2 separate regions of the Homo sapiens genome follow, and region 1 is reported to be linked to region 2. Evidence: microRNA targets listed by miRTarBase, many of them from high-throughput screens and not tested one by one. Region 2 holds a microRNA gene; the other region holds the end of a gene's coding sequence.

Region 1 (3,394 bases), not on the chromosome of region 2:
GTCGGGGTGGTGAGGCTGCTCTTGCAGAGAGAAGTGGGGAGTGCCTGGCTGCATCCGGGAGGGATGGAGGGCTGGGGAGTTGGGGGGGTGGGGCACCTCCAGCCCCGGCGTCAGCTGTCCGCCTCGCCCCAGGCTCCTCTCGAAGATCCTGAGCGAGTGTGAGGACGCCGACGAGATCGAGTACCTGGTGGACGGCTCGTGGTGCCCGATCCGCGCCGAAAAGGAGCGCAGCTGCAGCCCGCAGGGCGCCATCCTCGTGCTGGGTGAGTGCCTCACCCCACCAGCCGCGCAGTCCGCAGCCAGGGCCGCCTCAGTTTCCCCATTTATCAGTGGTTGCATCCTAAGTACCTGCACCCTGTCCCTGTTGCCCGTAGGCCCCTCGGACGCCAATGGGCTCCTGCCCGCCCCCAGCGTCAACGGGAGCGGTGCCCTGGGCAGCACGGGTGGCGGCGGCCCGGTGGGCAGCATGGAGAATGGGAAGCCGGGCGCCGATGTGGTGGACCTCACGCTGGACAGCTCATCGTCCTCGGAGGATGAGGAGGAGGAGGAAGAGGAGGAGGAAGACGAGGACGAAGAGGGGCCCCGGCCCAAGCGCCGCTGCCCCTTCCAGAAGGGCCTGGTGCCGGCCTGCTGACCCCGGCCGCACACTCGACTTTCCTGGTGCTCACCACGCAGAGGGGCACGGGCCAGCCTCGGGCGCAGAGGGAGGAGTGACCTTTCTTTTTCTTTTTATTGTCGTTCGTTTTGTTTTTCCACCCTTTTGCCTGGCTCCTGGCACCTGTACCTCTGGACTCTCCTATCGGGGGATTAAAAAAAAAAGTAAAATGACAAAAAAAGATACAAAAAAGAAAAATGAAACAAAAAAGTCAAACTCTTAAAAACAAGGCCGGCCACCCACACAGCCGCCTCCCCGGCTGGAGTCCGAGCCGGGAAGGGGTAGTGGGCGGGAGGGACCAGGACGCCGCCCCGCGCCCTCCCCTCCGGATGCCCCGCCGCCCGCCGCCCTCTGCCCACGACCATTCCAGCCAGTGCGCGGGGACCCGGGCGGCGGGCGGTGGGGCGCAGCCCCTCTCTGGCGACCACTTTGACGTTTGTCTCTTCCTTTGCTTTTTCTCTGCAAATGCATCCTCGCCCAGAGACCCTCACGCGCCGAGCAGCGAGCGTTTTAGCCGAGAAGCCATGGAGTGGGTTGGGGCGGGGAGGGGCAGTAGGGTGGGGGGATGGGTGGGCAGGATGGGGGTACAGTGGGCGGCTGGGGAGGGTTTAGCCACAGATGTGTTGTATTTTTTGAAAGTGCAATAATTTGGTATTTTGAAGACCCGGCGTGTGGTCAGGAACCCCCGGGGAAGGCGGGGGCCCAGGGTGCGGCACCGTGTGGCGTGGGGGGGTCTCAGTTTTCTAGCCAGCTACCTCGGTAATTCCAATTCAGGTTAACTTCCCTACGGAACAGCACAGATGTCCACAGATGTCCACAGCTGCCGCCGCCGCCGCCGCCACCATACCCCGGTCCTTGGGGCATGGGTTGCGGTCGCTTCCCAAGGGGCAGCAGGGACCCCGGCCACCCCGGCTCTCGGTTTGGGTTGATTCCTCTCCTTTTTGCTCTTGGTTTTCCGACGGGTACGAGGCTGGCCCGGCACCCTGTCCCCCGGGAGCCTCACTCTTCCAGCAGGACCAGACCAGGGGCCTCCTTCCTGTCCCCAGGCGTTCCCGGCCCCTCGCAGGCCCCACCCATGCCCTTGGCCTCAGGGTCCAACAACTGGGGGAGCTACCAGGGCTCTGCCTTCAGGAGCCCACAGCTGGGCACCCCCCTTGCCCCGCAGGAGACCGGGGCGCAGGCGGGGCACCGGCCTCACCTGGTTCTCCAACACCGCTGCCTGCGGTCTGTTTTGCTTTTGTCCTCCCCAGCCCAGAATTTTCCTTTGTATAAACAGAACTCCTAGTCAGGAAGCAATATCATTTCAGGTCTAAAGAAAGGGACGTGCATCTGGCCGAGGGCAGTTCAGTCTCACTGCAGAGCCCGCAGCCCGCTGCGCAGCTCGGCCCCTCCCGCCCGCACGGGCAGCTGAAGGCCGCTGTTTTCTAATATTTGTATTCTAATTTAATTGTTTTTAAAAAATGCAAATAAAAAAGGTCGAGGTGAAGCCATCCAGGCGTCCGCTTTTCTGTGCCCTGTGTCTCTTAAGTGTGTACCCTGTAGTCGGGGGGCGGAGTTGGGGGAAGGACAGAAACTCAGCCTCACCCACATCTCTCTTTCTTGGTTATTGCCTCAGCTTCAGAATTCAAAAGGTGCTGCTCGTGGTCAAATGAGGCAGATTTTTATTTATTTACTTATTTTTAATAGAGACAGGGAGTCTTGCTGTGTTGCCCAAGCTGGTCTTGAACTCTGGGCCTCAAGTGATCCTCCTGCCTCAGCCTCCCAAAGTGCTAGGATTACAGGCATGAGCCACCATGCCCGACCTGAATGAGGCCAGTTTTACTGTGTACTGTACTGCCTGGGCCTGGTGTCCACCACGCTGGGAGAATGGGAGAAGGGACTTGGGCTGTACATGGAATTCAGGTCCCAGGATCGTCCATGTCTCTGGGTGGCCAAGACGATACACAAATGTTTTGCTTTTGTAAGGTGAAAAAAAAGGGCCGGGTGCAGTGGCTCACGCTTGTAATCCCAGCACTTTGGGAGGCCGAGGCGGGTGGATCACCTGAGGTCAGGAGATCGAGACCATCCTGGCTAACACAGTGAAACCCCATCTCTACTAAAAATACAAAAAGCTGGGCGTGGTGGCGGGCGCCTGTAGTCCCAGCTACTCGGGAGGCTGAGGCAGGAGAATTGCTTGAACCCAGGAGGCGGAGGTTGCAGTGAGCTGAGATCACGCCACTGCACTCCAGCCTGGGCGACAGAGCGAGACTCCGTCTCAAAAAAATATATATACAGACAACCAATGAGCACATGAAGAGATGTTAGGGATGTGAGTCAAATGCACGGTGAGATACCTGTCACCCCCACCAGGACAGCTAGCATCAAAAACAGCAGCGAGGGTCAGGGAAGCTGCAGTCCACATGGCTGGGGAAGATAACGTGGTGCAGCCCCTTGGAAACAGTTGAGGCTAAATGTGGAGTTAGCGTGGGACCTGCAATGCCAGCCCTAGACGTGTCCCCAAGGTAAGTGAACACGTCCGTCCACACAAATGTGCTCACGGACGTGCACAGCAGCCAAATGTGGCAATGACCCATGTCCAGCCGGGGAGTGAATCAGTGCAGTGTGGCCATCCACACTGCAGAATGACAGCCATGGAAAGGAGCGAGGCTCTAACACAGGCCCCCAGCCCAGACGAACTCTGAGGATGCCATGCTTAGTGAGAGACATCAGACACCAAAGGCCACGAGGCGTGTGATCCCA
Region 2 (3,394 bases):
CTGGAAGGCTGAGGCAGGCGGATTGCTTGAGCCCAGGAGTTCGAGACCAGCCTGGGCAACATGGCGAAATGTTAATTTCACCCATCTATACAAAAAATAAAAAAATTAGCATAGCTGGTGGTGTATGCCTGTAGTCCCAAGCAGGAGAATTGCTTGAGCCTGGGAGGTGGAGGTTGCAGTGAGCCACGATCTCCCCATTGCACTCCAGTCTGGGCAATGGGAGTGAAACCTTGTCTCCAAAAAGTAGAGAGAGAAAATAGAAATTGAAATGAGGTGCACTGGGCACTGAGGCAAGGCTCTGGGGTTGGAGCAGTTAGAATGGTGTGCCTTTGCACATGTCTCCCTTTCCACCAGGACATTCTGCTGTGGCCGCTGGACTCCGGAGTCTGTGATAGGCCTCTGCCAGGGAAGATCTCTGGCAGTGCCCCTACACACCACTCCCTACTGTGCCTGCCTACCTAGAAGATGACGTTTCTAGGTGGGGACCAGGATGCCGTTCCACCCTCACTGCCTGTTGGGCCCTTCTCCCTGGGTTTGTAGTCTCCCTAACACCTGTCCCTATCCCTACAGGATGTGTGCCCCTGTGATGGTGGAGCTGGAGGGGGAGACAGATCCTCTGCTCATTGCCATGAAGGAACTCAAGTAAGTCACTCAAATCATGGTTCACTTCTCCAAATCTCTGGGAGGCATCTGTTGGGCTCTCTGTTGCACCCTTTGCTCCCACTTGCCTGGCTGGAGAAGTTGATGCTTATTCCTACAGATCCTTAGGAACAGCTCACCAGGAAGTAGGAGGAAGAGAGAAGAGGAGGCAGGGAAAGTGGGAGGGCACTGATGAGACATGGACGTCTTCTGGCTGTTGGAATTTCCCTGTTCCTGCTGCAGGAGGCCTTACCAATATTCTGTCATTCTTCCCCCTCTTGTCTGATATAAAAACTTTCTTTTTCTTGTAATTGCTTTCTTACAAAGTACACTCATCAGCCCCAAGAGGCTGCTCCTAAGACTTCTCTTTGCTTGTGTTTTGCACACAATCTGTTCCTTCTGCGGCAGAGCTGGGGTCACCAGCCCTCATGTACTTGTGACTTCTCCCCTGCCACAGGGCCCGAAAGATCCCCATCATCATTCGCCGTTACCTGCCAGATGGGAGCTATGAAGACTGGGGGGTGGACGAGCTCATCATCACCGACTGAGCTGGAGTCATCTTCCTGCCCTTGCCCCATGCCCAATTTTCATTCTCACTTTATATGTGTAAATAATAAAATATTCAACTTTCCAACCCCCTTCCCCTCTGCTTATCTGCAATGTCACCACCTGTTGCTTCCCCGTTACCGCCATGCTGCGTGGAGCATGCACCTATTCCAGTGGCCCTGTGACTGTCAGCTCCTTAAGAAGCACCAGGGGCCCTTAGCCCCTTTGGATCCCCCACATCCTTCCCTCCATCTCCCTGTTCCCCAGAGCAAAGGCTGCTGCAGGGGAGACACCTCAGCTGCCTTCCAAGCAGACAGACAAGTCTTTGTGCCCAGGGAGCTGGTTGCCACGGAAACCCCCAATTTCCTTTCCAGTGGGGACTGGCTGCAGGGGCTTCTCCCTTCTCAGGAGTATCACAGAGCAGGTCTCATCAAGCCACCCATTGTTTCCTAAGGACCTGCTTCGAGCCTCTTATCGTGGGCTCGGATCCCCTTTCAGGAGCAGTGCCCCAGCAGGAAGCGTGGGGGTGTGCTGATCTCCCACCCTCCCCAGGCAGAGCCCTGCTGGGCAAGTCAGCAGCTGGAGCAAGGACCGAGCACCTGCCTACCCCTGCCCCCATGGCTCTGTCCCCACTCCTCCTCAGGACTCTGCCCACACGCTGTCCTCTGTGGCCCACCTCTTTGGTGTGCCACACCCATGCCTTCTTCCTAGCCTCTATAAGATATCCTTTCCCTCCTATTTGGGGCTGGTGATCCCCTGAGGCCTTGGGGACATGGTGCTGGGGTGGTGGTGCTCCTGGGTTCCAGGTGTTACATTAAGTCAGAGCTGGAGTTCCCCCTTCCTCTGCCTGAGGTTCTAATGGGTCCTCTTCCTTTCTCCACCCTGCTTACCCAACCTGAGGTAAGACCAGTCACACTGGCTCCTCCCTCCTAGAGGGGGTCAGGGGGAGGGTGTATATTGACATGAACAGGGATAGAGGGTAAACTGGCTCCCTGAATATGCCAGCCTTAACCTCCATTCCACTGCCAGCTCCCCTTCAAAGAGGAGGAGCTGGGCTTCCCTAACCTCTGCAGGAGGCAGGGCCTCCAGGCCTAGGTGCAGCCTGGCCCTGGGATGGGATGTGGGGAGTGAATGGTGAGGATCTGCATTGGTGGGAGGGGTGTCCGCTGCCCTGGAGAAGGGTTAATTCAGGGAGCAGTGGACTTCACACTCCCATCCACCCTCCTCCAAGCCTGTGGAATCCTTTAATCAAGTTGGGTGCTGAAATTTCAGCTCTGAAATGCCGCCTTTGTGCTGGCATCCAGGCAGCCGCCCCAGAGTGCGGGGGTCACTTTCTCGGCCCCATTTCTCTAAATGGTCTCTTTGTTCCCTGCTGGGCTGCTCAGTATCAGATGTGATTAAAGGGAGATGGGGTTTGGGCTGGGGAGGAGGGGAATTGGGGGTTAACCCTTAGGGGATAGAGTGCAAGGGAAATGGGACAGAAGGGGTGTTTTTCCTCCTGTCTTCCTCTTCCCATTCTCCTCTTTTGGGGAGTCCCCTGCTATTCAGCTGTCTGGGCCTGGCTTTTGACTTCTCTTGAATAAAATGTCCCGGTCACCACTATTGGTTCTGTTTTCTTAGGGTTTGGGCATAGTCTCTTGAGTCATTTCCAGAAACACCTGACCCTTTTTTAACAAGTGGAGCTCCTGCCTTCCTGAGGCCTGTGCACACTTGGAACCTTTGGTCTAAGGGATGCACACAACCCAGGTCTTCTGACTTCCTTGGGGTCATTTCCCCTCCTTCCACATCCTCAGTGATTTCCCACTCACTCTCATGAGATGTGGGGTCTTGGAGGTGATAGTGTCATCTTCCGGATGTGCCCCCTGCTCCCCACTGTGCCAGCTCCATATCCCTCATCCCACGGCGAGCAGGAGTAGTGAACAGACCACAAATGGACAAAAGTCCTGCCTTTCAATGAAGGGGAAAGGGTGGGTTGTAAAGATTATAAACACATAAGGTTAGTACTGATTGATCCATGACAAAATTCTAGAATAGGTCCCTCCATGTTTAAAAGTGCTTATATAATAAAGAGGAGATCGGGCACTAGCATAGGGTGTCTAAGAACCAATATTGCCAAATAAGTTTTTTTTTCGATGGTTACTGGTCCAGTAGGTTGAGAGAATGCCAGAGATCAGTGAATCTTGATTTTGACAAGGCATCAGTAGTCTCC

What was found. Region 2 holds the annotated microRNA hsa-miR-6820-5p (UGCGGCAGAGCUGGGGUCA, at 1,040-1,058, shown strand). A microRNA usually pairs through its seed, bases 2 to 8, with sites in the 3' UTR of a target mRNA and lowers its output. Matches are read on the target gene's strand: a 7mer-m8 pairs with bases 2 to 8, a 7mer-A1 pairs with bases 2 to 7 and ends in A, and an 8mer does both.
Region 1: miRTarBase lists PIAS4 as a target of hsa-miR-6820-5p. Seed matches in the 3' UTR shown: 7mer-m8 at 1,476-1,482.

Annotation. Positions count from the first base shown.
Region 1 is chr19:4,037,242-4,040,635 of GRCh38, forward strand. It overlaps PIAS4 (protein inhibitor of activated STAT 4), which reads left to right. Exons shown (of 11, transcript NM_015897.4): 10 at 133-263; 11 at 375-2,145. The coding sequence ends at 634. Among named protein-coding and RNA genes, the nearest start is that of ZBTB7A, 28 kb to the right of the region's middle.
Region 2 is chr22:37,966,529-37,969,922 of GRCh38, forward strand. MIR6820 (microRNA 6820) reads left to right here and starts at 1,035; the gene lies at 1,035-1,096. It overlaps POLR2F (RNA polymerase II, I and III subunit F), which reads left to right. Exons shown (of 5, transcript NM_021974.5): 4 at 571-642; 5 at 1,097-2,784. The coding sequence ends at 1,187. RefSeq lists enhancers at 1,111-1,611, 1,994-2,288.